Linked DNA regions of Homo sapiens: all the other regions are linked to region 2. The links come from fine-mapping of genetic effects on gene expression. A gene starts in region 2. Each other region holds a variant in brackets. All regions are shown on one strand. Distances are from middle to middle.

Region 1 (10,807 bases), 54 kb after region 2:
TCCAGTTCCAGTCACTTGCCAAAGCTGCCCCTTGGGAGGGTTTGGCATTTGTGCATCGCAGTGCTGGAGTCTGGTGTTCCCCTTGGTAGGACAGGCTATGGGGACTGAGTCCTGGACCATGAGGCCAGGGCAGGGCCATGACACAGGCTGAGGGGGAGGCATGCAACCTACCCATCCAGGCCTCTCCCCAGCTGTTGCTGGGTCAGGTGCTGACAGACTTTCTCCCTGCTGAGCCCTCTGGCATGCTTGGAGCTCAGTGGTGATAATCCAGAACTTCTCTTCCCTTGGAGGGCTCTTGCATGGAGGCAGAGTTCTAGATAAGGACCTAGAGCTTTGCCCTTTCTTCCGGCCCACCCTCCTCCTTTCCTGGGGACTTAATGAAGAACACCAGGGACGGAAGTAGTCACTCTTGGGCAGGGACACTTGGCCGCCCTAATCAGCCTGCCTACTTCCTGCCCTGGCTCCTGCTCTGAGATTAAGAAAAACAACAACCTCTTAAATTTAGACAACTTCTTTGCCATACATGGGGGATGCTCACATACATGCCCTTATTAAAAATGTTTTTACCCAATCCTCACAATTTGGATGACAAATTATGATCCCCATTTTACAGATAAGGAAACTGAGGCTGAGCAAGATGAAAGATTTACCCTGGCCTTAGAATTAGTAAGTGTTCAGAGTTTGTTCGTGAACCTAAGTCTTTGTTTTTGTTTTGTTTTGCTTTGTTTTGAGACGGAATCTCGCTCTTGTTGCTTAGGCTGGAGTTCAATGGCAATGGTGTGATCTTGGCTCACTGCAACCTCTGCCTCCCGAGTTCAAGCGATTCTCCTGCCTCAGCCTCCCAAGTAGCTGGGATTACAGGCGCCCGCCACTGCGCCTGCCACCGCAACTGACAAATTTTGGTATTCTTAGTAGAGACGAGGTTTCGCAAGGTTGGCCAGGCTGGTCTCAAACTCCTGACCTCAGGTGATCCATTCGCCTCGACCTCTTGATGTGCTGGGATTACAGGCGTGAGCCACCGCATCTGCGCAAGTCTTTGGTTTTGTACTTTTTTATTCTTTATTTTTTAAAGGTCCTCTACCATTTCCAAGACATAGTCTTTCTCTGTTTCCCAGGCTGGAGTGCAGTGGCACGATCACGGCTCACTGCAACCTTGATCTCTTGGGCTCAAGCCATCCTCCCACCTCAGCCTCCTAAAATGCTGGGATTACAGGTGCATGCCACCATGCCTGGCCCCTCAAGTCTTCGGACTCCTAGCTTTCCCCTCCCTACTCCTATCCTTGAGCTCCTGTGAATGCCTAGAGGGAGTGTTATGTGATCGAAAACAGATGAGTGCTGAGATGTTCAAGCTGAATTTGAATCCCAGTTACATGGCTTACTTTTGCTGGACTAGTTACTCCACCCCTCTGGGCTTCAGTTTCCTTATCTGTAAAAGGAGATAATTATAGTAACCACCCATCAGGTTTGATGTGAGAATGACACAAAGCAGCCACATGTGAAGTACTTGGCACATAATAAGCAGAAAGCACTTAGTGAACCACAGCTGCTGTTTAATCACGGGTCCTGCTGGTGAGGCCACGTCTGTCCCGCAGCTCTCTGCACGTACCCTGTCTTGCTGCTGAGCCTCTGTTGCCTCCAGTGCCTTGCCCCGTGTCCTTGCTGGCTGCTGGGAGGATCAGATGAGATGGTGAAGGGCAAAGGGCATGAAGTATGCAGCTTTTTCTCTGCCGGGGTATGAATGACCACGCAAGACCCGGTGTGTTGGAAGTGAGGCTGCTCCTAAAATTTCATCATCTTCTCTGGACAGAAGTGAACTAAGAAAACCCCAAAGCATCCTCAGATATGTTAATACAACCTTCTGCATTCAAAAAGGAGGAAACTGTGGCCCAGAGAGGAGCAGGGACTTCCTCAAGGTCACACAGCAAGGCTGAGTGGAAGCTGGCCCAGAGCTCTTCCCACCTGGCCACATGATTCCTCTGTCTTCCTTCCCCCGAAGGGACTGACCCAGAGAGACCTGGAAATTGTTGCCCAATGTTTAAGGGCAATTACAGGATGGAAAAGCCATGTCTTAGCAGGAGTGGCCAGTGGAAGGATGAGTACCATGGTCAGGAGTCCATAGAACAATGTGGTTTTCCTGTACCCAGCATCACTGGTGGCCATGGGACAGTAGTGTGTACCCACTATGTTGCCCAGGCTTGTAGTATAAAGGACCAAGGCTGAGCATGGTGGCTCACACCTGTAATCCAGCACTTTGGAAGGCCAAGGTGGGCAGACCACCTGAGTTCAGGAGTTCGAGACCAGCCTGGCCAACATGGTGGAACCCCGTCTCTACTAAAAATACAAAAATTAGGCCGGGCTTGGTGGCTCACACCTGTAATCACAGCACTTTGGGAGGCCGAGTGGGCAGATCACGAGGTCAGGAGATTGAGACCATCCTGGCTTACACGGTTAAACCCCGTCTCTACTAAAAATACAAAAAATTAGCCAGGAGTGGCGGTGGGCACCTGTAGTCCCAGCTACTCGGAGGCTGAGGCAGGAGAATGGCGTGAACCCAGGAGGGGGAGCTTGCAGTGAGCCGAGATCGCACCACTGCACTCCAGCCTGGGCAACAGAGTGAGATTCCATCTCAAAAACAAAAACAAACAAAAAAAAAAAACAAAAAAAAAGGACCAAGGCCAAATGTGGTGGCTTACGCCTATAATGCCAGCACTTGGGGAGACTGAGGCAGGAGGATTGCTTGAGCCCAAGAATTCGAGACCAGCCTGGGCAACATGGCGAAAACCCATCTATATTAAAAATACAAAAAAATTAGCCAGATATGGTGGTGTGAGACTGTAGTCCCAACTACTTGAGACGCTGAAGTGAGAGAATCATCTGAGCCTGGGAGGTTGAGGCTGCAAGTGAGCCATGATAGCTCCACTGCACTCCAGCCTGGGTGACAAAGTGAGACCCCTTTTCAAAAAAAAAGAAAAAAAATAGGACCAAAGACTGAGAAGGTGAGAAGGGTCCACCCTTCCTCCCCTAGAGTCTGGGCCCAGCTCCCACCACTGCCCATAAAAGGAGCATAGTCAGACAAGGCAGATCTGGAGGATAAGATGAGGAAGATAAAAATCATTCTTTGAATGGTATGACTTAGAAAACCTAGGTCAAACTGGCTTCACCATAAGGGGAATTAACTGGATTCGAGGTGAGTCCTCAGGTGAGGGCTTCCTCCAGCAGCTCGAGTGGCGTCACTACGGTGTGGTTTAAAATCAGTCCATGCGTTCTTTGGCACTTCCTTTAAAAGGAATCCTAGTTATGCTTCCCTTGGCTGTGGGCTGGACATAGTGACTTGCTTCTAATGAATAGAAAAAAAGCAAAGATGATAGTGTGCAGGTTGTAGAAGGCACTGTGGCTTCCTTCTCTCTATCACACACACAATCATCATCATCATCATCGTCATCGTCATCGTCATCATCGCTCTGGGGAAAGCTAGCTGCTATGGAGAGCCCGCTTGGTGAGGCACTGAGACCTCCTGCCAATTGCCACATGAGTGCACCATCTTCAAAGTGGATCCTCCAGCCCCATCTTGGAAGTGGATGACTGCACCCCTAGCCAACATCTTAACTATAAACACATTAGAGACCCTGAGCCAGAACCACTAATTGGGATCTCTTCCAATTTCCAATCCTCAACTCTGGCGACTCTGGGAGATAATAAATGTTTTTTGTTATTGTTGTTTTTTTTTGTTTTCAAGACAGAGTCTTGCTCTGTCACCCAGGCTGGAGTGCAGTAGCCCGATCTTGGCTCCTTGTAACCTCTGCCTCCCGGGTTCTAGCAATTCTCCTGCCTCAGCCTCCCGAGTAGCTGGAATTACAGGCGCCTGCCACCACGCTCGGCTAATTTTTGTATTCTTAGTAGAGACGGGGTTTCACCATGTTGGCCAGGCTGGTCTTGAACTCTTAACCTCGTGATCCACCTGCCTCGGCCTCCCAAAGTGCTGGGATTACAGGCATGAACCACTGCGCCTGGCCCAATAAATGTTTTAAACTGCTAAATTGGGGGTGATTTGTTACACAGCAATAAGTAACTAATAACACCACAGACTAGGTTCTATTTCTTCTTTCATTGTTTTCTTTTTTTCTTATTTTGGAGACAGGGTCTCCTTCTGTTGCCCAGGCTGGAGTGCAGTGGTGCAATCACGGCTCATTGCAGCCTCTATTCAAGCGATTCTCCTGGGCTAAAGTGATCCACCCATCTCAGACTCCCAAGTAACTGGGACCAAGTAACTGGCTAATAAAAAAAGATTTTTTTTTTTTAGTAGAGAAGAGGTCTCACAATGTTGCCCAGGCTTGTCTTGAACACAAGCTGAAACGATCCTCCCGCCTTGTCCTCCCAAAGTGCTGGGATTGCAGGTGTGAACCACTGTGCCTGGCCTAGGTTCTTTTTCTTCTTGAAGTCTCTGGGCTCTGCCTTCCTCTGTATGTTGACTTCATTCTCAACAGAAATTTTTGGGAATAAGAGCTACTGCATCTCTAGCTCTCACATCCCCTTAACACACTGTCCAGGGAAAGAGAGTACCTCTTCCAGTACTCCTGTAGAAATGAAAAGCAGCTTCTCTCCCTCAAAAAGCTCCACTGACTTCTCTTGGCAAATCCTTGGCTCTGACTGAGGTAGTGTTCATTTCTGTGACTAGAGAGATTGGATGCATATGGCTTCTCCTCCAGGGTCATCAGAGCCCACCCTGGAAGAGTGCTACCAACCCCACCCACTAGCATAGAATTCCAGTAGAGCCCAATATGGCTCTGATGGTGGGAGAGACAGGGAACATATGCTGGGAAGCCATGTAATAGCCATGACATCGGGGTAGTACGTGGAAGGCTCAGAACAGAAAATTCCCCACAGGCCCCAGAACATCCTCTAGAGCAGCAGTCCCCAACCTTTTTGACACCAGGGACCAGTTTTGTGGAAGACAATTTTTCCACAGGCAGCAGGAGCATGGTTTCAGGATGAAATCTTCCCACCTCAGATCATCAGTCATTAGATTCTCATAAGGAGCACAAAACCTAGATCTCTCAAATGCACACTTCACAGTAGGGTTCGTGCTCCTATGAGGATCTTTTTTTTTTTTGACTGGAAGTCTAGCTCTGTCACCCAGGCTGGAGTGCAGTGGCTCGATCTTGGCCCACTGCAACCTCCGCCTCCCGGGCTTAAGCGATTCTTCTGCCTCAGCCTCCTGAGTAGCTGAGACTACA[G/C]GTGCGTGCCACCACACCCGGCTCACAGTGAGCCAAGATTGTGTCACTGCACTCCAGCCTGGATGACAGAGTGAGACTTCATCTCAAAAAAAAAAAAAAAAAAAGGCCAGGCACGTGGTGGCTCACACCTGTAATCCCAGCACTTTGGGAGGCTGAGGCGGGTGGATCATGAGGTTAGGAGTTCGAGACCAGTCTGGTCAACATGGTGAAACCCTGTCTCTACTAATAAGGCTTAGAGGTGAAGGGGTGGGTTCTGGAGTCAGACAGACAAGATCTAAATCCTGGTTCTATTGCTCACCAGCTATGTGACTTTCTTTTTTTTTGAGACAGATTCTGCCTCCCAGGCTCAGGAGATCTTCCTGCCTCAGCTCCCAGAGTAGCTGGGACTACAGGTGCGTGCCATCACGCCTGGCTAATTTTTTTGTAGAGATGGGGTTTCTCCATGTTACCAAGGCTGGCCTCAAACTCCTGGGCTCAAGCAATATGCCTGCCTTGGCCTTCTAAAGTGCTAGGATTACAGGCGTGAGCCACCGCGCCCAGCCTATGTGACCTTTGTGTGCCTTGGTTCCTTCATCTATAAAATGGGAGAAGAATGCCCAGGAACACAGGTGGAAGAATTAATGAGATGCAGTAAGGGCTCAGTGCTGGAATTACAGGTGGGAGCCACCGCACCCAGCCTGTGTGAAAATTTTAAGAATTAGAATCAGGCCGGGCACCGTGGCTCATGCCTGTAATCCCAGCACTTTGGGAGGCCAAGGCAGGTGGATCGCTTGAGCCCAGGAGTTCAAGACCAGCCTGGGCCACATGAAAAACCCAGTCTCTACAAAAAAATTTTTTTAATTAGCCAGGCATGGTGGCATGCGTCTGTAGTCCCAGCTACTTGGGAGGCTAAGGTGGGAGGATTGCCTGAGCCCAGGAGGTCGAGGCTGCAGTGAGTTGTGATCATGCCATGTACTCCAAGCCTGGGCAACAGTATGAGACCCTGTCTAAAAAAAAAAAAAAAAAAATCAGAATCACTTTGCTCTAAAACAGATCTTTCAGATAATAAGAGCAGAGCTATGGCAGCCAGGTGTGGTGGCTCACACCTGTAATCCCAGCACTTTGGGAGGCCAAGGCCAGCGGATCATCTGAGGTCGGGAGTTGGAGACCAGCCTGAGCAACATGGAGAAACCCCATCTGTACTAAAAATACAAAAATTAGCTGGGCATGGTGGCACATGCCTGTAATCCCAGCTATTCAGGAGGCTAAGGCAGGAGAATAACTTGAACCTGGGAGGTGGAGGTTGCGGTGAGCCAATATCACACCACTGCACTCTAGCTTGGGCAACAAGAGCGAAACTCCACGTCAAAAAAAAAAAGAAAAAAAGAGTAGAGCTATCTGTAGCTATTAAAGAAGAGAAAAAATAAGAGGAAAACAATATTTGCTGAGGATTTATTATGTACCAGGCATGGCACTAAACCTGTTTAGAGGTCCTGTCTCATTTAATCCTCACAGCCTTATGAGGTAAATACTATTATTAACCCTGTTTCACAGGTAATGAAACAGATGCACAGAACAACTGAGTGTGTTCATTGACTGTCATTCATTCACTCAATGCCTCGCCTGTGCCAGGCCTTGGGGACTCCCCAGTACACAAAGTAGACAAAGGCCCAAGTCGCCTGCTGTTGAAGGACTAGAAAGTGGGTTCCCTAGGACCCTCGGGGGAGCGTCTTCAGAGCCCAAGTGCATGACCACGATGGAACGGGATCCTCATGAAGTAGTGAGTTTCCTGCCACTGAAGGTATGCAAGTGAGAGCTGGGGACTTGCTGGGAAGGAATTCCCGCTTGGGATGGGCTGGAGCCAGTGGACGGCAGGAGCCCTGTAGCTGTTCTTCAAGTTCTGCAATCCTACAGGGAACCTCTGAGCACTGAATCAAAGCCTCCCACTTGCAGGATAAAAGGTGGGGAGGAGGAAAAAGGAAAGGGGAAGAAAGCATGGAGAAGCCGGAGGGGCAGGACTGACCTCAGGGCATCAGCTCCACAGCAGGCACCCAGGCCCGGGTGCCACCTAGTGGAAGGCTCAGAAAACGAAGAGAAGGCCAGAGAGAGGGACAGAGACGAAGAAATTGAGAGTGACGGATGAGTGTGTCCCTGAGCTAACTCAGGAGCCCTACCTCAGTGTCCCAGACCCTTCTGAATAATGACACTGGATATAGTGAAATTTAAGACTTTTTTCCCCTGTATTTTGACCTCTCTAAAGTCAGATACGTCTTACAATGAATGCGGTGGTGGTTTAATAGGTGGTGGTGCATCCTACAATTGCACGTATGTAAGATTTGATGGAACACTGAAAACTGTCATTGATGGAGCCCTTGTGACATGCCAGGCATGAGCTAAGCCCTCTACCTGTATGATGTTATTGAATCCATGCCCATTTAACAGAAGAGGAAACAGAGGAGGCTGAGGGAGGTGAAGTCATGTGCCCAGGTCTCACAGTAAGTATGTCTGTGGCTGAGAAGCTGGCTGCAGGACTGCTGACCACTGCTACACTGCACAGCTCCCCTCTCTGTGTCACCAGTCACCTTGTTTTATCACTGCCTGAGTGTCCCCTGGCTCCCACCCTCGACCCCTGCCCACATGCCATGATCTCCGCTGGGACAGGGCCTGTGTTTCATTTGTCTAATTTAATGCTCACAAAAACCCTGTGAAGGTGGGTACCATCACTACCATTTGACCTACAGAGGTTAAAGTTTAAATAAATAGAAGCATCTGGCTGGGTGTGATGGCTCATGCCTGTAATTCCAGCACTTTGGGAGACCGAGGCGGGCAGATCACTTGAGGCCAGGAGTTCCAGACCAACCTGGCCAACATGGCAAAACCCTGTCTCTACTAAAAATACAAAAATTAGGCTGGGCATGCTGGCTCACGCCTGTAATCCTAGCACTTTGGGAGGCCGAGGCGGGTAGATCACCTGAGGTCAGGAGTTCGAGACCAACCTGGTCAACATGGTGAAACCCTGTCTCTACTAAAAAATACAAAAAAAATTAGTTGGGCATGGCACGCTCCTGTAATCCCAGCTACTCGGGAGGCTGAGGCTAGAGAATCACTTGAACCCGGGAGGTGGAGGTTGCAGTGAGCCGAGATTGCACCACTGCACTCCAGCCTGGGCGACAGAGCAAGACTCCGTCTCAAAAAAAAAAAAAAAAAGTATGCTATAATTCTAGTTCATATTATGCCCAGTGAAAAAAAGAATATTAAATATTATGTGTATCTGGTATGATCCTGATATTTGTAGCTATGAATGTACTTATAGAGAAAAAACCTGACTCATTTTATATATTAGAGGAGAGGAGCTCAGGGTGGGTTCGGTGTAGCCAGGTAGGACATTTGACCTAGGACAGGTGTCTTTGATTATATTAGGATGGTGGGATTGCCAATAATTTTTTCTCTAGATTTTTATGTTTTCCAAATTCTCTAAAAATGAGCATGTCTTTTTAAAATTAGAAAATATCCTATAAGGCCAGGCGCGGTGGCTCACGCCTGTAATTCCAGCACTTTGGGAGGCCAAGGAGAGCAGATCACTTGAGGCCAGGAATACCAGACCAACCTGGCCAACATGGCAAAACCCTGTCTCTACTAAAAACACAAAAATTAGGCTGGGCACAGTGGCTCATGCCTGTAATCCTGGCACCTTGGGAGGCCGAGGCGGGTGGATCACCTGAGGTCAGGAGTTTGAGACCAGCCTGGTCAACATGGTAAAACCCCGTCTCTACTAAAAAAATACAAAAAAAATTAGCCGGGCATGGTGGCACATGCGTGTAATCCCAGCTACTGGAGAGGCTGAGGCTGGAGAATCAGTTGAACCTGGGAGGTGGAGGTTGCAGTGAGCCAAGATCATGCCACTGCACACGCCAGCCTGGGCAACAGAGCGAGACTTTGTCTGAAAGAAAAAAAAAAGGCATCTAAAATTATTTTTAAATGACTGGGTAAGAAATTTACAACGGGGAGGACTGTGGCTGTGTTTTGATGTTGGCATAGGGGTGACTTTTATTTATTTTCCAATTTTCCTGGCCATAGAAAACACTTTTAAAATGTATGCTATAGCCGGGCACAGTGGCTCACACCTGTAATACCAGCACTTTGGGAGGTCAAGGCGGGTGGATCACCTGACGCTGGGAGTTCGAGACCAGCCTGACCAACATGGAGAAACCCTGTCTTACTAAAAATACAAAATTAGCCGGGCGTGGTTGGCACATGGCTGTAATCCCAGCTGCTCGGGAGGCTGAGGCAGGAGAATCACTTGAACCCGGGAGGCGGAGGTTGCGTTGAGCTGAGATCACACCATTGCACTCCAGCCTGGGCGACAAGAGCAAAACTCTGTCTCAAAAAAAAAAGAAAAAAAGAAAAAAAAGAAAAGAAAATATCATATTAAATGCATTTATAAGTCCAACAAAGATTTGGACAAGAAAGGACATACCAGGCTAGGTGCAGTGGCCCACCCTGTGATCCCAGCACTTTGGGAGGCCAAGGTGGGAGGACTGCTTGAGCTTAGGAGTTTGAGACCAGCTTGGGCAACGTGGCCAAACCCCACTTCTACCAGAAATACAAAAATTAGCTGGGCCTGCTGGCATCCGCCTATAGTCCCAGCTACTCAGGAGGCTGAGGTGGGAGGATGACTTGAGCCCAGGAGGCGGAGGGTGCAGTGAGCTGAGATCACGCTATTGCACTCCAGCCTGGGCGACAGAGCAAGACTCTGCCCCCACCGGCCCCCGCCCTGGCCACCCCCCACCAAAAGAAAAAGGACATTCCAGGCAGAAACAGCAAGAAGCAAGAAAAGCAAAAGAAAGAAAGTGGGAAATCCCAGGGTATGAGCCTTGAACCAGCCATGAGCACCTGGCGGATGCTCGGCAAATCCCTACTGCCTGGGTGGGTCCGACCGGGCTGAGACCAGTTAGGCTTTGGCACCTCCCTCTGGTTGGCTACAGAAGCCAAGCCCCCACGTTTAAAATGCCAGAAGCCCCGGGCCTGGTTGTGCACTGAGGAGGGTCTTGGTGAAGAAACACATGCTGAACTTCATAAGGACCGTTGTTTCACACCCTTTTCCCAGGTGCGGCTTTTCACTCCATGTTACCAGGGTCCACTGGAACCACTTCTCCTCCTACTTCAGACGCCCTGGCTGACCTCACCTGGTCTTTGTTTCCTTCACTACAACAGAAGTTGGGCAATTTTACGAGCACCCTGGCTGAGGCAGTGTGATAGAGTGGGAAAGTGCCGGGGCCATGAGTTTGCTATGGTGTGTGGGAGTGTGGGGACCTTGGGCTAGTTAGTTCGGGGCTTTAGACTATTTTTTTTTTTTTTTGAGATGGAGTCTCGCTCTGTCACCCAGGCTGGAGTGCAATGGTGCGATCTTGGTTCACTGCAACCTCCACCTCCTGGGTTCAAGCAATTCTCCTGCCTCAGCCTCTCAAGTAGCTGGGATTACAGGCGCCCACCACCACGCCCAGCTAATTTTTTGTATTTTTAGTAGAGACGGGGTTTCACTATGTTGGTCAGGATGGTCTCGATCTCCTGACCTCGTGATCCGCCCGCCTCGG
Region 2 (10,807 bases):
TCAAACAATCCTCCCACCCGCAGCCTCTAGGGCTAGGGCTGCAGGCGTGGGCCACCAGGCCCAGCTTAGTTACTTACTTATTTATTTAGAGATAGGGTCTCACCCAAGCTGGAGTGCAGTGGCACGATCACGGCTCACAGCCAACCTCTGCCTCCCAGGCTAAAGGAATCCTCCCACCTCAGCTGGGACCACAGGCATGTATCACCACACCCAGCTAATTTTTTATATTTTTTGTAGAGATGGGGTTTTGCTACGTTGCCCAGGCTGGTCTCGAACTCCTAGGCTCAAGAGATCCGCCTGCCTCAGCCTCCCAAAGTACTGGGATTACAGGCGTGAGCCACTGTGCCTGGCAATTTTTTTAATAGTTTTTGTAGAGACAGGGTCTCGCCATGTTGCCCAGGCTGGTCTAGAACTCCTGCGCTCAAAAGATTCATCCTCCTTGGCCTCCTACAGTGCTAGGATTACAGGCGTGAGCCACCACAGCCCAGCTGCCTTTTTTACTTTTGAGAGGGCATCCTATCTATCCTCCAGATGTTGAGGGTAAAACAAAACAAAAACAAACCAAAAAAACCATCCTGCTGTTATATAGATGACAGGGAGTTAATGGGCTCACAGGCAGACAACTCCAAAAACTACTCACAAGGAAGGAAATGCAGCTGTGAGTTCAGTCATACTATTTGAGAAGGTGCTCATCTCTCTCTCTTAAATGTGAAGCTCAGTGCTAGCTAGACAGGTAGGCTCAAAGCCCCATTACATCTCTTGGCCTTTCCCCTAGCGCCACCACCAAATTTCTAATTTCCATACATGCTATGTGCTTCAACTGTAAATAGTTTTCTTTTACAAACTCAGATACCTCTTGGCAGGTTAACACTGTTCAACATACCACTCTGGACAACCACAGCCTCTGCACCCTCTCTACTTTCTTTTTTTTTTTTTTAATTTTTATTTTTTGAGATGGAGTCTTGCTCTGTCACCCAGGCTGGGGTGCAGTGGCACTATCTCGGCTCACTGCAACCACCGCCTCCCAGGTTCAAGCAATTCTCCTGCCTCAGTCTCCCGAGTAGCTGGGATTACAGCCATGCACCACTATGCGTGGCTAATTTTTGTATTTTTAGTAGAAATGCGGTTTCGCCATGTTGCCCAGGCTGGTCTCAACATCAAGTGATCCACCCCCCTCCGCCTCCCAAAAGGCTGGGATTACAGGAGTGTGCCACCACACCTGGTCCACTGCTTTCAAAATAACTATATTTACAAGGGTATTTCCCCCATTTGCATTTCCCACACGTAGGTTTTGAGAAGAGATCAAGAATGCCCTTTACCACATTTTACCTGTCCTTTTTTCCCCTTTCAAACAAACTGGTCTAGGGGCCAAGCACAGAGGCTCAAGCCTGTAATCCCAGCACTTTGGGAGGCCAAGGCAGGCAGATCACTTAAGGTCAGGAGTTTGAGACCAGCCTGGCCAACATGGTAAAACCCAGTCTCTTCTAAAATACAAAAATCAGCCAGGCGTAGTGGTGCATGCGCTCCTCGGAAGGCAAAGGCAGAAGAATCACTTCAACCTGGGAGGCAGAGGGTGCAGTGAGCCGAGATCGCGCCACTGCACTCCAGCAGCCAGGGTGACAGAGCGAGACACCATCTCATTAAAAAAAAAAAAAAAAAAAAAAACAAAAAACCTGATCTGTATCAGTGCAAAGTTTGCCTATGTTGAATCACTGGGTAGCAGAAAACATTTCTTATTTCACAAATGAGACAAACAAGGCTTAAAGAGTGAAAACAAACTGCCTAGGGTCACCCAACCAAGGAGTAAAGAACTGTGACTTGAACCCTGATTCTCTGCCACCAAGCCCAATGAGAAAGGCTTACAACTAGTGGTAGGAAGGATGATTTTCAGTGGTTCTCAACACAAATATGAAAAACAGAAAGGGGATGCAAGTGACTCAAGTTTGGAAAACTGCACACGCCCCTCTGCTATTCTAACTGAAAGATGAAATTAATAGTAAGCAGGGCATTAATCACTGATCTCTTCCTAATTCAGATACTTAATTTTTCTTGTCTTCTTTGATTAGCTCCTCCAATAGAATAATAGAATACTGAATAGAGCCATAACTGATAATAGCTTTATCTTTTTTTTTTTTTTTTTGAGACGAAGTCTCACTCTGTCGCCCAGGCTGGAGTGCAGTGACTTGATCTTGGCTCACTCCAACCTTTGCCTCCCCGGTTCAAGCGATTCTCATGCCTCAGCCTCCCGAATAGCTGGGCCCACCACCATGCCTGGCTAATTTTTCTATTTTTAGTAGAGACAGGGTTTCACCATGTTGGCCAGGCTGGTCTCGAACTCCTGGCCTCAAGTGATCTCCCCATCTCGGCATCCCAAAATGCTACAGGTGTGAGTCACCTCACCCGGCCCGATAGTAGCTTATTCTAAGTTTAATACTGTTCTAAAGTTTCACCGTTAAGTATCATGTTTTACAGATTATTCATGGATGCACTTTTTTTGAGTTTATGGAAATTCCTTCCTATTCCTCACTCAGTAAAAATTTTTTTTAACTCATCTCTGGCCCACTTGTTTCCCTTCTCCATGCTGTTTTCCACCCACCACCCTTCCTTTCTTTCTTTTTTTTTTTTTTTTTTGAGATGGAGTCTTACTCTGTTGCCCAGGCTGGAGTACAGTGGCGCAATCTCCGCACACCACAACCTCTGCCTCCCGGGTTCAAGCAATTCTCCTGCCTCAGCCTCCCGAGTAGCTGGGACTACAGGCACGCGCCACCACGCCCAGCTAATTTTTGTATTTTTAGTAGAGATGGGGTTTCACCATGTTGGCCAGGATGGTCTCGATCTCCTGACCTCGTGATCTGCCCACCTCAGCCTCCCAAAGTGCTGGGATTACAGGCGTGAGCCACCGCGCCCGGCCTCCTTCCTTTCTTGTATTTCAGGTTCCTTCCTACATTCTACGCATCTCAAAGTACTATATCTGCCACTCAAAGTAACCGAAACGCTTTGATATTTTGGGGGTTCTATACCTGTCTGCTGTTTCAGTTCCCTGGACCAAAAAAAAAAAAAAAAAAAAAATCGAAAATTGACAATTGAAAGAAAATCCTAAGGCAAACACTGTTCCAGTCATTACTGAAGACTGCAGAGGTAAATGCAGATTATTTCTTCTCTCCATCTCTTTTGTTTGAGACAGGGTCTTGCTCTGTCGCCCAGGCTGGAATGCAGTGGTGCGACGTGGCTCACTGCAGCCTCGACCTCCCGGGCTCAAGCAGTTCTCCCACCGCAGCCTCCAGAGTAGTACAGGCGCGTAACATCGCTCCCAGCTAATTTTTGAATTTTTTTGTAGAGACAGGGTTTCGCCATCTTGTTCAGGCTGGACTCAAGTAATCCTCCCACCTCGGCCTCCGAAAGTGCTGCGATTACAGGCATGAGCCACCGCGCCCAGCCCTTCTCTATCTCTTAAACACATCCTGAAATGTCCTTTCTTTAAAGTAAAAACTCGGGGAAAAAAAAGAACCCAATAGTTCTAGATGACCATTTACTTTCCGGTATGTTGCCTAGCTCTGAATGAGCCTGGCTTTTTAAGTGGCTGGAAGAAGCTCAAAGTGTTTTTTTTAAGTTTTGAGGGAAGGAGCTGGATCCAGATGTTTATAACTTCGACTCTCTCCTTTGCTAAAATAAAAAGTATTAAAGAGAAAAGCAAAGGAAGAGGGGTAGTATGTGTAAGCAAATAAATTCCACACATGAAAGCTGAAGACACAAGGGAAAACCAACCCTTTAAAGCCCAAGCAAGTTAAGAATTCTCTCCCTCAATTTCTTTCAAAACAAAAGGGCACACACAATCCTTCCCGAAGCAGCAACGCCGGGGGGAGAAGCCAAAATGTTGCATCATACAGAACACTCCGCGCTTGAGAAACGAGAAAGCCAGTAAATGCCCAAGACAGAAAAACACAAGTTGGGAATCTCGGTCTTTTCCGAAGGTCCAAGAGCACCTGCTCTTTGGTAAATTTGTTTAAGATTGCATCGAAAATTAAAGTTTCCGTTTCAGACCAGTGGGGAGCAAATGCTTTTTCAAAAACGCGTTCAAAGAAGTTCGTTTGAAAGCTCATCGGGCGGCGGGCCGCAGTTCGGGCTCCGGGCGGCGGACCGGAGCGCTGGGGAGCGGGTGGGGCCGGGCCCCGGCGCCCGGGCGGGGGGTGGTGACAGGACCCGCGCGCGCCCGGCGCTGGGGCCCCGGGGCAGGCAAGTCCCGCCCGTGGGCTCTTCCCGACCCACCCGGGCGCGGGACGCTGGTCTGGCGTCCGCCGATGCCTACGCGCTGGAGACGGTGGCCGCCGCCCGGGTCCCCAACCCGGACCCCTCGACGGGCCCTCGGAGGCGGGAAGGCGCGGGCGGCCCCCAGACAATGGGCCGGGGGCGCGGGTGCCCGCAGCGGGACGGGTGCTGGCGCCGAGCGGGGGCGCCTCAGGAGAGCCCCGGGACGCCGCTCCCCGCAGCCGGGAGGGAGCCGGGGGATCTGCCGGGCGGGACCGCGAGGCGAGCGCTCACCTTGACGAAGAGCTCGATGAGGGGCTCTTTGTCCTCCTCCTTCAGCCCATTCAGCGGCATCGACAACGCCATGGCCGGCTCGGCTGCGCTCCGCGAACGGCGAGGGCTGCTGCTGCTGCTGCTGCTTCTGCTCCGGGACTGCTCCGGCTGCCGGTTCCCGCCGTGCTGCTCGCTGGACTGTCCGGCGTCGAGCTGGCCACGGCTTCAGCTCCTCAGCACCGCCCCACGCCCCCCGCGCCACTCTGAGCCAGCCGCAGCCCGAGCCGCTTCAAACGGCTGGGAGGGGCGCCGGGGGCGGGGCCTCGGGCTGTAGGCAGGGCCAAGGCGCGGCGCCTCGGGACTCTCCGGGGAAAATAAGGCGGCAGGAGCACGGGGGCGTGGCCTCGAGCGGGGAAGGCGGAGGGACCGCTCCGGAGCCGAAGAAAGGACCTCTGCGGCGCCCCACAGCTGGTAGGGGGCGTGGCCTTGGTGGGCGGTACAAAGCTCAGGCTCTGGCGGGCGGGACCCGGGTACGCCTCTCTAGGGGACTGGTGCGGGGGGGAAAGGAGGGGAGGAATTCCCCAGGGGCCCGAGCCTGACACTGCCTCCCGCCGCAGCGCCTGCGCGTCCTCCGCAGCTGCTGCTGTTGCTGTGCCAGGTGACCTCATGCCTCGGCCGCCCTGGGGAAGCTAGGAGGCGCCTCCTACCCACTCCCCCGCTGCAGCACCCCAGGACTCATCGCCCTTTCCCGCAGCGGCTACCTCCCCAAGTCCCTCTATTACGCGGAGTTGCCTTTTCCAAGACAACTTACTGGAAAGTTTTCATCGCCTGGGGAACACCTTTTTCTTCTGCCTCTGACTTCGTTTTTCCCTTTGACGCTCCTGATCGTTTCGATCTTGGCAGCCAGCATATTCACAAATATATATATATATATATATATTTTTTTTTTTTTTTTTTTTGAGACGGAGTCTGGCTCTATCGCCTAGGCTGGAGTGCAGTGGCGCGATCTCGGCTCACTGCAAACTCTGCCCCGGGTTCACGCCATTCTCCTGCCTCAGCCTCCCAAGTAGCTGGGACTACAGGCACCCGCCACCGCGCCCGGCTAATTTTTGTATTTTTAGTAGAGACGGGGTTTCACCGTGTTAGTCAGGATGGTCTCGATCTCCTGACCTCGTGATCCGCCCGCCTCGGCCTCCCAAAGTGCTGGGATTACAGGCGTGAGCCACCGCGCCGGGCGCATATTCACAAATATTTATGAAACCTTACTGTGTTTCAGGCTCTGAGCTAGCCCTTGGAGAGTAACAACTCCCAAAGCTCAAGATCTTGAACTGCAATCTCAGTGCCTGCAGGCCACTAAGGACTTCCAAGTCGTTGTCCATCTTGTTCCCCACTGCCCACACCCATTTCTTCCCCCCGGCTCACCTGTCAAATTTGAGTGTGCATCAGAATCACCTAGGTGCTACACGCAGCCCCGCTTTTTGTGTTTCCCAGATCCTCTGGGAAAAAGAGAAATCCACATCTTAGCAAGCACCAGGACAATTCTGAAGTAGGTGGTCCGCAAACCAGTTAAACTGCCCTGGGATTTAAGCCCCCGAGGGCAAGAGCTGTGCTTGCCTTGAGATTGTAGGCACCTGGTCCTAGTTTGCTGCTGTTGAGTGCCTGGGGCAAGTTTCACCTCCTCTGGAAACAATTACTTGTGCCCTTTTCTGACTTTCCATAATACTTGACTCACAGCTACTCCTCCCAACTTCCCAGGTTGGGATAAATAGTGAGTTCCAGGAGGCCCAGACATGGGAGGTTTGTCTCCATATCCTCGGTGCCTAGCACATACCAGAATGTTTGAACAAATTGTACGTAGGCATGAAAATACAGTGAAACTTGCAATTTCTTCCTCTGCCAGCCCAAAGTAAGTTGCTCAAATTTTCTCACAGAGGCTCTGTGAAAGAGCCAGTGTATCCCAGTGGTCAGGAACACGTGCTCTGTAGTCTGACTGTTTAAGTTCAAATCTGACAAGGCAGTGTCCTTAAAACCCCTAAGCCTCAGTTTCATTATCTAGAAGTGGGTGGGGCTAATTACTGATTCTTGCCTTACCATATGTGCTGCTCCGTCAGTATGGCTGTTAACTGCATTGAGACTTATTCTGTCCCTACCACCCCTGCAGGCTAGAATGTGGCATCATATTCTACTCTCTCTATGCCCGGCTAGTTCGTTGAAAATAAATAAATAAATTCCAGGAGGCTCCCCTTAGATGGGGGCTTGAACCATGAAAATCCTGAAGTGACTGACTAGACTCTGGACTGAACCGTGTTAATTTTTCATAGAATCATGAACTGAAGCAAAGTTTCCTTCCAGAATCCACCCTCTCTGCCCTACCAAAAAGGAACCAAATGGTGAATCAGTTCAAAGCAGATCTAAGCCAAAAAACAATTCAGCAGAAACTCAATGTACCTGAGAATTGATCAAATTGAGGCCGGGCACAGTGGCTCATGCCTGTAATCCCAACACGTTGGGAGACCGAGGCGAGTGGATCACCTGAGGTCAGGAGTTCGAGACCAGCCTGGCCAGCATGGCGAAACCCCATCTTTACTAAAAATACAAAAATTAGCCGGGTGTGGTGGCACATGCCTGTAATCCTAGCTACTCGGGAGGCTGAGGCAGGAGAATCGCTTGAACCGGGGAGGCAAAGGTGGCTGTGAGCCGAGATCACGCCACTGTACTCCAGCCTGGGCGACAGAGCGAAATCCATCTCAAAAAAAAAGAATTTGAGTTAGAGGCAGCAAATATTCCCGGTGGTGACTTGCCCTTCACAGGCTCCAACTGGCCTCACAGCACCAGGGTATGGAAGGAGGAACAGACCAGGGCCCTTTAGGCTTCATTGACTAAACAGAGATCTTAGCTAGGAGGAAGCCAGGGGCATTCTCCACAGAGCCCTGAGGTGGTGATGATCTCCTGGGCTCCTCCTACCCAACAGGAAGCCCCCCAGGAAGAGGCTCAGACCCAGAGCCTGTGCTTAGACGTAGTCTCAGTCACACCTACAGTTTCCCAAGTTCCGCCCTCATATGGCTCCCATGGATGGGCAGTCAGTCCTGGGAGTGGGTGAAAGGGAAAGAGGATGTTTATGCAGGGGAGGCCCCCTAACCACATAGCAGTCAAGTCTCCTCTTCGAATTTTGAATTGCATGCCTGCTTTACATTCTTTACTCAGGCTTGTTTTTATAGCACACAGAAATCTTTAAGATGGGTGGAGACATGTTGTCTCCTCCCACACACACCCCTCTGACCTCATCTCCTACCATTCTCCCCTGTGCTCTCCACCCCAGCTTCACTGGCCTCCTTTCTAGTCCTTGGATATGCGAAGCACACTGTGGCCTCAGGGCCTTTGCATTTGCTCTTCCCCCTCTCTGGAACATTCTTCCCCCAGAATTTCTGCAACTCCCACTCCCTTACTTCCTTTGGCTCTTTGCTCAAATGTCATCTTCTCAGAGCGCTCTCCCCAAATACCACCCTATGCAACGTTGCAAGTTGCTATCTTTCACTCCACCCTCCACTTTATCTCTCTTCATAACACTTACAACCCTCTGATACATATCTACCTATTTATCTGCTTATTGTCTGTCTTCTCCCACTAGAACATAAATGCCATAAGGGCAGGGATTTTTTGTTTGGTTTTGTTTATGGCTATATTCCTGGCTCAGAGGACAGCTCATGGTACACAATAAAAATTTATGGAGTGGGCCGGGCGCAGTGGCTCACGCCTATAATCCCAGGATTTTGGGAGGCCAAGGCGGATGGATCACCTGAGGTCGGGAGTTCGAGACCAGCCTGACCAACATGGAGAAACCCCGTCTCCACTAAAAATACAAAAAATTAGCCAGGCATGGTGGTGCATGCCTGCAATCCCAGCTACTTGGGAGGCTGAGGCAGGAGAATCGCTTGAACCTGGGAGGCAGAGGTTGCAGTAAGCCGAGATTGCGCCATTGCACTCCAGCCTGGACAACAAGAGCGAAACTCTGTCTCAAAAAAAAAAAAAAATAGCTTATGGAGTGAGTGACTGTACCATGTTTATCCTATGGTTTCATGTACCCCTGACATGACATTTGGATTGTCACGCTCTTCCAGTCTGGGAAGCCAGGTGGTTTGTGTTTATGACTGCCCCTACACAGGGGGTCAGGTTTTCCTCCAGTAAGCCTCCCTTGATGACACTTTCCTCCTCCCACTTCTAACTCTGTGGTGCTGCTCGCTGACTGTCTCAGCCCAAAGTTCTGCAATTTCAGCAGCAGAATGAGCTGCTATGCACATGGACTCTGGGGCCAGACTGCCTGGGTTCCAATCCTGCTTCTGTTATTTACTAACTCAGGATACTTACTTAACCTCTCTGTGCTTCATTTTCTCATCAGTAAAAATGGATCTAAATTAGTACCATTTTCTCGTCTGTAAACATGGATCTAAAATTAGTACCTATTAATATTTAATAGGATCATTGATAAATTAGTCTATGTTAAGAGCTTGGATTGTAAGTGCTCTGTAGACACTAGCTGTTGGTATTATTCCCATCTGTCCATATTCTTGACCGGTCACTGAGCTCTCACACTGCATGCCAGACACCTAGCTGGGTGCTTTCATATCCAATCATATTTATTCATCATGGTCTTGCAAGGCTTGATTTATTTATTTATTTATTTATATTTATTTTTATTTTTTTTGAGACGGAGTCTCACTCTGTCGCCCAGGTTGAAGTGTAGTGGCACAATCTCATCTCACTGCAACCTCCACCTCCCAGGTTCAAGTGATTCTCATGTCCCAGCCTCTCAAGTAGCTGGGATTACAGGCATGTGCCACCACACCTGGCTAATTTTTGTACTTTTAGTAGAGACGGGGTTTTGCCATGTTGGCCAGACTGGTCTCAAACTCCTGACCTTAATTAAGTGATCCACCCGCCTCGGCCTCCCAAAGTGCTGGGATTACAGGCATGAGCCACCATCCCCAGCATTGCAAGGCATAATTTTCATTGTCCCCATTTTACAAATAAGGAAACTGAGGGCCAGGCACGGTGGCTCAAGCCTGTAATCCCAGCACTTAGGGAGGCCGAGGCAGGTGGATCACTTGAGGCCAGGAGCTCGAGACCAGACTGGCCAACATGGTGAAACCCCATTTCTACTAAAAATACAAAAAGTAGCTGGGCTTGGTGGCAGGCACCTGTAATTCCAGCTGCTCGGGAGGCTGAGGCAGGAGAATCGCTTGAACCCAGGAGGCAGAGGTTGCAGTGAGCCGAGATCGTGCCAGTGTACTCCAGCCTGGGTGACAACAGCGAAACTCTGTCTCAAAAAAAAAAAAGATTTCCTCATGCTCCCCAGAATGGCATGCAACTTATTTTTTATTTATTTTTTTAATAGGAGAAAAGTCATACAAATTGATTTCACATACATACACAGGAGCCTTCAGAATGAAGACCCACCTCCCCCATGAATTACGGAAACTTATATATCATCTTGAGGTTACAGAAAGAATGGGAGCTTGCATCCTGGTAAAACAGGCTATGTGAAGGGGGAGAAGAATTCTGTTTAGGGGCAATAAGGGGTTGGGAAGGAGAATGACTGGATGGGGGAGCAGGGATTAACTTGTAAATAGTTTTCTTTAGAATTTAAATGATCCTTGGAGACAGTCATTATCCTCATAAAAAGACCTGTTCAAGTGTGGTCACGTCTTAGTCTTCTTTTCTATATCACAAGATGTAAGTTTTAGCTTGCAGGGCCACAGGTCAGGAACCCTCTAAAGGACCTGCATAAACAAGGCACAAGGCCAGTCTTTCTAAGGGACGTTTATCAGTTCTATAAAGTCTATTTCAATTCCTCAAAGCAGTTTGCTCATATTTTAAAATATCCCATTCTGGTCAAAACCTTGATAAAATAACTGGTGTTTCCAATTGTGTCCCCTTTGCAGGCAGGTGAGTTTCCTGGGTTCTCTTCACTACGGCTTCCAGAACAGAACAGTAGCTTTGATCACCCTGATCACTGCACCATACTGTGGAGGCCGTAGGCTCCCGGTCCCCTAAAAGTTCACTGAAAAGTTACTGACATGAGGCAGATTGGTTAATAGGAGAAAAGGCATACAAATTTATTTAATATATATACACAGAAGCCTTCAGAATGAAGACCCTGACATGCCACTTAAATCTAATAAATGGGGCCGGGTGCGGTGGCTCACGCCTGTAATCCCAGAACTTTGGGAGGCCGAGATGCGCGAATCACTTGAGGTCAGGAATTTAAGACCAGCCTGGCCAACATGGTGAA
Region 3 (10,807 bases), 28 kb after region 2:
GTCGATGGGACTGGGCGCTGTGGAGCAGGGGGCGGAGCTCGTCAGGGAGGCTCGGGCCGCACAGGAGCCCACGGGGGTCGGGGGAGGCTCAGGCATGGTGGGCTGCAGGTCCCGAGCCCTGCGGCGTGGGGAGGCAGCTAAGGCCCAGCGAGAAGTCGAGCACAGCAGCTGCTGGCCCAGGTGCTAAGCCCCTCATTGCCCAGGGCCGGTGGGGCCGGCCGGAGGCTCCCAGTGCGGGGCCCGCCGAGCCCACGCCCACCCGGAACTCGCGCTGGCCGCAAGCACTGCACGCAGCCCGGGTTCCCACCCGCGCCTCTCCCTCCACACCTCCCCGCAAGCTGAGGGAGCCGGCTCTGGGCTTGGCCAGCCCAGAAAGGGGCTCCCACAGTACAGCGGCGGGTTGAAGGGCTCCTCAAGCATGGCCAGAGTGGGCGTCAAGGCCGAGGAGGCGCCAAGAGCCAGTGAGGGCTGGGAGGGCTGCCAGCACACTGTCACCTCTCAATCCCAGCACTTTGGGAGGCCGAGGCGGGTGGATCACCTGAGGTCAGGAGTTCAAGACCAGCCTGATCAACATGGAGAAACCCTGTCTCTACTAAAAATACAAAATTAGCCAGGCATGGTGGCCGGTGCCTATAATCCCAGCTACTCGGGAGGCTGAGGCAGGAGAATCGCTTGAACGTGGGAGGCGGAGGTTGTGGTGAGCTGATATGGCGCCATTGCACTCCAGCCTGGGCAACAAGAGCAAAACTCCGTCTCAAAAAAAAAGAGTCTAGCAAACCTTTCCAGAGACTTCTCTTGGGCCAGCCTTCCCCATGGACTCTTGGCAGGTGGCTTCTTTCTTCAGGCTCTGAGATTTCTCTACATTCATCCTTCCCGCTGCCTTTCAGGTCTCAAGCCTTCTGCCCTCCTGCCCCATTTCCTTACCCAGAGCCCTCTCTCCTGTCCTCCAGGCCACGGCCAGGAAGAGGGCAGTGCCTTTCGCACCCAAGAAAGTCATCAAAGTATTTGGCCATGCAGAACCTTCATCTCTCCAGCCAAATGCTATGGCCTGGTTTTGTGTGTTTGTTTGTTTTCTGAGACGGAGTGTCGCTCTGTCCCCCAGGCTGGAGCACAGTGGTGCTATCTCCGCTCACCGCAACCTCTGACTCCCTGGTTCAAGTGATTCTCCTACCTCAGCCTCCCGAGTAGCTGGGATTACAGGCACGCGCCACCACGCCCAGATAATTTTTGTATTTTTAGTAGAGGTGGGGTTTCACCAGGTTGGCCAGGCTGGTCTCAATCTCCTGACCTCATGATCCACCTGCCTTGGGCCTCCCAAAGTGCTGGGATTACAGGCGTGAGCCGCCGCGCCCGGCCTGGCTTGGTTTTTAAACTCACATGTGTTTCCTCCCTGGGAGTCTGTGAGGTCCCTGAAGCTCCATGGTGGGTGGATTCTGGCCTGTGGCTCCAGGGCCCGGCCTTATTCCAGTGAGTGTCCAAGGGAGGGAGGATGGAGTTGGCGACCCCTTGCCCTTCCTGTCCTGGTCCCACCTCCCAATGAGTCAGCTTGGAGCCAGGCCTCTTGGCCTTTCCTGTTCTCCTCTCTGGCTCCGGAACAACAGCCGGATGTGAGCTGCGCCCAGGCTGTTTTGGGACTTGGCGGACTGGCAGGTGTTGGCTGACTGTCTCCTGGAGGCCAGGCCCATGACTCGGTTCCCCACATCCCACAGCCGGCCCCTGCTCTCGCCCAGAGGATGGGAGAACCCCATCCCAAGAGATGAGCCATGGATACCAGTGGATGTGTGGGTACTCAGGGTACCCCAACTCCTGAATAGAGGGGACAGGGTCAGAGAAGGCCAGAGGATGAACCCTGAAGCCAGAGGTCTTGGGTTAGAATCCTAGGCATGTTACTTTAACTCTGCCTCAACTGCCTCATCTGTAAAATAACGATGGGGATAATAATAGTCATTCTCTACAAGATTGCTGAAGAGTAAGGCCGGGGGTGGTGGCTCACGCCTGTAATCTCAGCACTTTGGGAGGTCAAGGCGGGCGGATCACCTGAGGTCGGGAGTTTGAGACCAGCCTGACCAACATGGAAAAACCCCGTCTCTACTAAAAATACAAAATTAGCCAGGCGTGGAGGCACATGCCTGTAATCCCAGCTACTCGGGAGGCTAAGGCAGAAGAATTGCTTGAAGCCAGGAGGAGGAGGTTGCAGTGAGCCGAGATTGTGCCATTGCACTCCAGCCTGGGCAACAAGAGCGAAACTCCGTCTCAAAAAAAAAAGATTGCCAAAGAATAAATGCATTTATATCTGTAAAGCACGCAAAGGAGTGCCTAGCACATGAGAAGCACTAAGTTCATGTTTGTTACATGAAAAACATAAATTCAATAAACATTTGCTAAGGGCCCACCATGTGCAGGCCCAGGTCAGGTGCTGGGGACACAGTGAACAAGGTGGACACAGCAGCTGCCCCAAGAAAGGGCATCGGGCATCTCCCGCAGGGGGACCAATTCAGTACATGAAGCGGAGCCTGGGAATCTGTTAGGGCATGGCGCTTACGGTGAAGCTGAAATTTCCATGAACAAGGCTGGGTGCAGTGGCTCATGCCTGTCATCCTCATGCTTTGGAAGGCTGAGGTGGAAGTATCCTTGAGGCAGGAATATCCTTGAGGCCAAGAGTTCAAGACCAGCCTGGGCAACATGGTGAGACCCCTATCTCTACCAAGAAAAATTAAAATCAGCTGGGTGTGGTGGTACATGCCTGTAGTCCTAGCCACTCAGGAGATTGAGGCGGAAAGATTCCTTGAGCCCAGGAGCTATGATTGCACCACTGCATTCCATCCTGGTGACAGAGCCCAACCCTGTCTCTATTTTAAAAAAAGTTCCGGCCAGGCACGGTGGCTCACGCCTGTAATCCCAGCACTTTAGGAAGTCGAGGTAGGCAGATCACTTGAGGTGAGGAGTTCAAGACCAGCCTGGCCAACATGCTGAAACCCCATCTCTGCTAAAAATACAAAAAGTAGCCAGGTGTGGTGGCGCACACCTGTAATCTCAGCTACTTGGGAGGCTGAGGCATGAGAATCGCTTGAACCTGGGAAGCGGAGGTTACAGTGAGCTGAGATCATGCCACTGCACTCCAGCCTGGGCAACAGAGTGAAACTCCGTCTCAAGAAGAAAAAAAAAAATTCCCTGAACAAATAGGGAAACTGACGCCTTGGGGAGGGGCAGGGAGCTGCTTGGGATCACTAAAAATTGGGGATCGCTTTTTTGTGAGGGGCACATAGCTGCTATTGTATTATTGTTTTTTGATTGTTCCCAATTTACCAGGGAGGAACTGAGCCAAGAAGTTAAGTAACTTAGTTGAGATCACATGACTAGGAAATGGTAGAGCCAAGATTGAACCCCAGCCAGCCTGGCTAACCAAACAGTAGCATGAGGCTGATCATTAACTGTCTTTTACTGAATATCCACAACATACTTGCAAAATACATCTTCTTCCTCACACCACCCGATGAAGGAGGTACCATTAAGGTCCGCATTTCACAGATGAAGGAACTGAGCCCCAGGGAGGTTGTGTGATTTACCCAGGGTCTCACTTCTAGGCAGTGGCAGAGTTGAGGTTTCTCGACACAGGGTTGTCCTGCTGCCCAAGACCTCTTAATTCCCAGCTGGCTTTCCCTGGCCAGGCTAGAGCCAGTGCCATCCCCCATCCATCCCATCCCTTCTAGGGTGTACGTGCAGAGAATGCAGAAGTCATTGAACTACGGTCTGGACAAATGGGCATTATGAGCAGGGTCCTTCTGCCAAGCAGCCACAGCCAAGTGGATGCTGTGCTAGACTAGCCACCTCCCCCCTCCCTCCAGCTTGACCCTAAAGTCCAGGATTCTTTGGAAAGATTAGACTCCACTAGGCTGAGAACACCGCGGTGCCAACAGCAAGGGCTTCAGCTCTACTGTACCCTCCACACACATTATGTGAAGGTGAAATTTCACAAGTACCCCAAGAAGAAGGTTCTAGTACTATCCTCATTTTTCAAGAGGCAGGACAGTAGAGGGGTAAGAGCATTGACTTGGAGCAGAGGCTGCCTGGGTTCCATCCCCTACCCGGCCACTAGGTCTGTCCAAGGCTCTGTCCTAGTCATGGCCTTGCTTACTTAACCTCTCTGGACCTCAGTCTCTTTATCACTGGGAAGAGGACGAGACTGGTACCTACACCTCATAGGGAGGATAAAAGAACTAGAAGTATTAGGATATGGGCACAGCACATAATGAGCACCATGTGTTTGCCATTTTATGGAAACTGAAGCTCAAGAAAGTTATATGACTTGGCCTACGTCACATGAGTACCACATGGAAGAGCCAGGACTTGAACTCAAGTCTGTCCAACTCCAAAGCAGCCCTCTCCTCACATACTCAGGGCATTGAGCTCCTTGATGGATGAGTAGAATTTTTAGATTGAAGGAAGGTGGACAATTCAGGTTGTTCACAGAGATGGGAATGGGCTGCATAGCAACTAGTAGTAGTTCCAGGGTGAGTGCCACATCCCCACAGCTCTAACATCCAGTCTGATGGATATTCAAGTCACTGGACACAGGATTCCGAGCGCCTACTCTGTGCCAGGTCAGGTACTAGGTATTGAGAAAGGAGAAAGAAAGCACACACAGTTCATGAAGCTCAACAATCCAGTGGGGGAGATGGATGGGCAAGTGAATCACTATGATACAGTGAAATAATGGCTCTATAGTGCTGAAGACAGGTGCAAATAGTAAATTCTCCCTGGGAAGCAGTTGAGGAAGGCTCCATGGAGGAACTGGCATTTGAACTGGACCTTTAAGAACTGAGCAAGGCCTGGCACGGTGGCTCACGCCTGTAATCCTAGCGCTTTGGGAGGCCGAGGCGAGTGGATCACCTGAGTGATTCAAGTTTGAGACCACCCTCACCAGCATGGTGAAACCCCATCTCTACCAAAAATACAAAAATTAGCCGGGCATGGTGGTGCATGCCTGTAGTCCCAGCTACTTGGGAGGCTGAGGCAGGAAAATCACTTGAACCCGGGAAGCGGAGGTTGTAGTGAGCTGAGATTGCGCCACTGCACTCCAACCTGGGCGACAGAGCAAGACTCTGTCTCAAAAAAAAAAAAGCTGAGCAAGTTCAAAACAGGAAAAGTGAATCCACCCCAGACAGAGGGCCTAGCAGGAGCAAGTGCAGAGAATCACAAGGCACATGGGGCATTCAGGGGAGTGGAGAGTTCCATATGCCCCAGGCAGGGCCGATGAGACTGCAGAAGTGGTTCAAGGTCAGAGTAGGAGGGCCTTTCTGTTGGTCAGAACTCCTGGGTTGCGAGAGACAGAAAACGCAATTCCAAGAAGCTTAGGAAAAAAGAAAATCCGTTGACTCAAAAAACTGAACATTCACCTCCTTTGAGAATGAAAGTTAAAAAGAAAAAACAATAGAGTATATTAGTGTATTTGCTTCAGGTATAGCTCAAATAAATGCTTTCAAGACTTGGCCTCTCTCTCTTCTTCTCTGCTCCTCTCTGCTTCTCCTTGCATTGGCTTCACTCTGAAGCAGGCCCTTTCCAAATGGAGGCTCCAAGCCCAGGGCAAAGAAAGATTCATTTCTCCAGATATTTATTTATTTATTTATTTTGAAATGAAGTCTTGCTCTTGTCCCTCAGTCTGGAGTGCAATGGCGTGATCTCGGTTCACTGCAACCTCTGCCTCCCGGGTTCAAGCAATTCTCCTGCCTCAGCCTCCGGAGTATCTGGGATTACAGGTGCGTACCACCACGCCCAGGTAATTTTTTGTATTTTAAGTAGAGACAAGGTTTCACCATGTTGGCCAGGCTGGTCTCAAAGTCCTGACCTCAGGT[G/A]ATCCATCCGCCTTGGCCTTCCAAAGTGCTGGGATTATATGCGTGAGCCACAGCGCCCGGCCCATTTCTCCAAACATTTATACACAGGTTCTGAACTTGAATTTCATTGGACTGGTTTAGGTCACGTGACTATGTCTAAACCAATTGCTGTATAGAGGTGGTGGGAGTGGAGGTGGAACAATCGGATTGATCAAGTTGGGGTCACATGTCTAATTCTAGGCCTGAGCTCCACTCGAAACATATGGACTGAGAGTGGGGGCCCAGGTGCTTCCCCAGAAATAGAGAGACTTGGAGCTCATATGGAAAAGGAATGGATGCTGAGTGGGCAAGATGACAGCCTGAACACTGAGGTCATGGTCTTTTAGGTAGTGAGGAGTCAGTGAGGGCTTTAATTTGAGGACAGAGCAGTTTGGACTCAACTTGGGCTTTGTGAGTGAAGAAGGGAGAGATGATGGAGACAGAGATGTTTGTAGATGAAAATCTCTTTGAGAGATCCTGGAGACCTGGGGTAGCAGGCATGGAGAGGAGGGGGAGAGGCAAAGGCTGCCTGGCTGGGATGCCCCAGTTGTTACTGGAAGGGCTGCTTCAAGGACCAAGACCACGTCACCCCCTGGCTACGGGCCTTCAGATGCCAGCAAGAGCGTGGGCTAAGGGCCCAGCCTCCCTGCCCCGCAATGCCCATGACTAACTCTTTCCCTCCATCTGCCCCCGCACTTACTCACCCCCACTGGGCCCCAGAGAATCTGATCTCTCATGGTCCCAGTTGTGAGGTGGTCACCTTGTCATAAGGTGCTGGTAGTGGTGGAGGCTGGGCACCTTCACCCCTCCCAGCCTTAACAACCGCTTTCTTAGTTTCTAACCTCCCACCCCATCCCCCTGGGGCCTGGAACATCACCCCGTGGGCTCCAGGCAGGCCAGCTCCTCTCCCTGGTGAATGGAGCCATTGTAAGATCAGCCTAAGAGCTGGCAGGCACTAGCCTGGCACACGTGGCTCTCCCAGAGTCCCTAAGTCCAGCCATTCTTGGTGCTGGGTGCTTGGGCCTGCTCAGAAATGAAAGAGGAGGACTGAGGGGGCTTGGACTGCTGTAGCAGGTTTCAGGACCTGCTGCAGCTAGGCCCCTGAATATACTATGCTCGGCCTCAGGTCTGAGGGAGGAGGCTGGGGGCCAAGGCTTGACCCTGGAACCTTCAAAACTTTGGAGCAGGAGGGACTTGCCAGTTGGGCCCTGATATATCGGGGGCTTTTACCAAACTGAAAGCTGTGATGTGATAGAAAATGCCAGAACTCTGTTCCTGGTGGTCCAGCCAACCCCACAGAACTCTGGAGGGAGAGGCAGGACACTGAGGCCATCCAGGAAAATTATGAGGTTTGGGAGTTGGTGGTAAGAAAGTGGGGAGTTTGGGACTTGCCATTTCACCACAGACTGCCTTCCAGAGCCTTCCAGACGGAGCCTGGGGTGATGGTGTCAAAATACTTAGCTACTGTTTATTGAAGACTTATTAAGTGGTTAAGCACTGTGCCCAGAACTTCACATACCTTATCTCATTTAGTTTTTATAACATCCATGTAAGGCAGGTATTATCATTATTCTCAGGGCTGTCATGTACTGTTGCCCAGATTGTTCACTGCACAAAGGTACCCAGCCATAGATGAGTATGTGAAGGCTAAAATCCACCCAGTGCTCTACTCACCCACTCTGCTCCTGTTGGGTCTGTGTCTACTATAAGAAGGTCCTCTTTTTCTTATGTTATAGCTGGGAAGTTAGGCTCTGAGAAGATGAAATTACTTGTCAAAATCTTCATAACAGGTAAGTGTAAGATCAGATCTGCTGACTCCAAAATCTCTCAATGAACCACTGTACCCTCTATCTTCAGGCTTATGCACTCACACTCCTCTCTGCTCTTCTCTTTCCTCGGGACCCAACTGCTCACAGTAGGCAACGTGGCAGGAGGCAAAAGCCTGGGCCAGGAGATAGGAGACCTGGGTTGCAGGCCTGGCTCCACCTTAGCATTCACCTTTCCTCTTCACATCTTGGTCTCCTTATCTGTAAAGTGGGAATTTCAATTAGAGTTCTTTAGAAGCAAGAGAAACCAACTTGAGCTTACTGAAAAAAAAAAAAAAGGAAGGCAGTGGAAGAATCTGGGGCTGCCGGTAGAACGGAAGGAGGAGCTAAACTAGGCCTTGGATAGACCAGAAACCTCACTCCAGGGATCCAGCAATGGACGTTTGGGCTAGGTCCCTGTGGCATCCCCATGTCTATGTGAGCCACTGTGCCTGGGAGAGGGACTCATGCCCAGCTCATAGGGATTGCCTGAATCAAGTGGGCTCTGGGTGGGGAGGCTCTCTGCAGGCTGCAAAGTAGATGTGATTCAAGGGAACATCGTATATGGCTCTGTTCCTCCTGTCCCAGGAAAATGTGTGAGCAAGGCCAGCCTCTGGCCCTGGCTTGCCACTGACTGACTGCCCAAGGTTACGTGTCCTTGGGCAAGTCACTTCTTCTTCTGGTCCAGAGTTGTCTACAGAAGGTAGATGATTATCTGTAAGGCCAGTTTTTAGCTCACTAAGGTGTTAGCAACTGATTCCAGGGAATTTCAGACATTCCTGGGAGCAGTTGTTCAACCTAAAAGAATGAATCATGGATGGTGGAATTTTAGGCATCCATGAAGATGATGTTGGGTGGAGTTTTTGTGTGGTCACACCAAGTGGAAAAATGTCCACTGCACGTAGGAGACCAAGTGGGGAGAGGGGCAGCCTGGGCACGGTACCCCTACTTCGCACCTCCAGGACCTCTGCCATGAGAGGGCTACAGAGATCCCGCTCAGGGGCAAGAGGTTGGCCACATTTGAGAGCTGGGTCACTGGAAGGGCTCCAGGCAGAGGAAGAACAGCTGGCTGATGGGAGACATGGAGCCTCCTGACCACTCCTATCCCCATGCCTTTGTCAAACGGACACACATATTCATGGCAGCCGGCTGAGGCACTGTGCAAAAAGGACATCGGTTCTCCTGTCTGGGCCTCAGTTTCCACCTCTGTCAAATGGGGTAAGGTTGCTCTAACCTCATGGGGTCTTTCTAAAAATCAAATGGGACAAGACATCCGAAAGAAAACCAAGGAAACTTAGGATCTTGGTGCTGAATAAGGACTAGAATGTCAGTGTCATGGAGCAGGTCTTCTCTCTGTCTTCTGCACTACTGTATCCTCAGTGCAGCATGGAGCCAGCTGCATAGTAGGTGCTCAAAACATTATTTATTGAGGCCAGGCACAGTGGCTCACACCTGTATTCCCAGCACTTTGGGAGGCTGAGGCAGGCAGATCACTTGAGGTCAGGAGTTCGAGACCAGCCTGGCCAACATGGTGAAACCTGTCTCTACTAAAAAAAAATTACAAAAATTAGCCAGGTGCGGTGGCTCACGCCTGTAATCCCAGCACTTCGGGAGGCCTAGGTGGGTGGATCATGAGATCAGAAGTTCGAGAGCAGCCGGACCAACATGGTGAAACCCCATCTCTAATAAAAATACAAAAATTAGCTGGGCATGGTGGTGGGCGCCTGTAGTCCCAGCTACTCGGGAGGCTGAGGAAGAGAATTGCTTGAACCCAGGAGGTGGAGGTTGCAGTGAGCCAAGATCACGCCACTGCACTCCAGCCTGGGCGACAGAGCGAGACTCCGTCTCAAAAAAAAAAAAATTACAAAAATTAGCCGGGTGTGGTGGCGCTTGCCTGTAGTCCCAGCTACTTGGGAGGCTGAGGCAGGAGAATTGCTTGAACCTGGGAGGCGGAGGGGAGGTTGCAGTGAGCCAAAATCGTGCCACTGCAACTCCAGCCGGGATGACAGAGCAACAAGACTCCATCTCAAAAAAAAAAAAAAAAAGTATTGAGTATTAATAAGTAATATCTATAGGTTTTTATGTTCCAAGCATTGATCTGAATTTTTGTTTTGTTTTGTTTTGCTTTTTGAGATGGAGTCTCGCTCTGTCTCCCAGGCTGGAGTGCAGTGGCATGATCTTGGCTCATGGAACCTCTGCCTCCTGGGTTCAAGCGATTCTCCTGCCTCAACCTCCGGAGTAGCTGGAATTACAGGCATGTGCCACCATACCCGGCTACTTTTTGTATTTTTAGTAGAAAGGAGATTTCATCATGTTGGCCAGGCTGCTCTTGAACAGGTGATCTGCCTGCCTTGGCCTCCCAAAGTGCTGGGATTACAGGTGTGAGCCACTATGCCCGGCCTGATTTTGTTTTATAGAGACAGGGTCTCTCTCTGTCACCCAGGCCAGAGTGCCGTGACACAATCATAGCTCACTGCAGCCTTGAACTCCTGGGCTTAAGCGATTTTCCTGCTTCAGCCTCCCAAGTAGCTGGGACTATAGGTATGAGCCACCACAGCCAGTGGTCTGAATTTTCCAGGTATTCATTCTTTTAATCTTTACAATAATATTGGTACTGTTATTATCATCCCCGCTTTGGAGATAAAGAAAAAGAGATGACGTCACTTGCCCAAGGCCATGCACCTAGTAAGAGATAGAGCTGGATTTTGAACCTAGGTAGTCTGGTTCTAGGGTCCTCTCTTAAGCATAACTCTACCTGCTGAATGGCTGGCTAAGTGAGCAAATTGAATGAATACATGAATGCATGAACAAGGATATGAATACATGGAATTTGGGTTTCAGACTCCTCAAAGCTTTTACTGTAAGAACATGGGCCGAGGCCGGGCGCAGAGGCTCACGCCTGTAATCCCAACACTTTGGGAGGCAGAGGTGGGTGGATCACGAGGTCAGGAGTTTGAGACCAGCCTGGCCAATATAGTGAAACCCCATCTCTACTAAAAACACAAAAATTAGCCAGGTGTGGTGGCACATGCCTGTAGTCCCAGCTACTCAGGAGGCTGAGGCAGAAGAATCGCTTGAACCCGTGAGGTGGAGGTTGCAGTGAGCCAAGATCATGCCACTGCACTCCAGCCT

The links. PIP is the estimated chance that this variant, and not a neighbour inherited with it, causes the effect.
Region 1: its variant is the best candidate, but not a certain one, in a credible set for the expression of CLIC4 in whole blood (INTERVAL, PIP 0.65).
Region 3: its variant is the best candidate, but not a certain one, in a credible set for the expression of CLIC4 in whole blood (INTERVAL, PIP 0.64).

What each region holds. Positions count from the first base shown.
Region 1 is chr1:24,685,203-24,696,009 of GRCh38, reverse strand. No RefSeq gene overlaps it. Among named protein-coding and RNA genes, the nearest start is that of SRRM1, 47 kb to the right of the region's middle. RefSeq lists a silencer at 386-505. The variant G/C (reference allele first, on the strand shown) is at 5,235.
Region 2 is chr1:24,739,358-24,750,164 of GRCh38, reverse strand. CLIC4 (chloride intracellular channel 4) reads right to left here and starts at 4,718. Exons shown (of 6, transcript NM_013943.3): 1 at 4,540-4,718. The coding sequence starts at 4,611. RefSeq lists silencers at 606-685, 4,147-4,306, 4,407-5,116 and enhancers at 4,198-4,803, 4,804-5,409, 6,622-7,227.
Region 3 is chr1:24,711,037-24,721,843 of GRCh38, reverse strand. No RefSeq gene overlaps it. Among named protein-coding and RNA genes, the nearest start is that of CLIC4, 29 kb to the left of the region's middle. RefSeq lists enhancers at 1,432-1,726, 5,946-7,145. The variant G/A (reference allele first, on the strand shown) is at 5,853.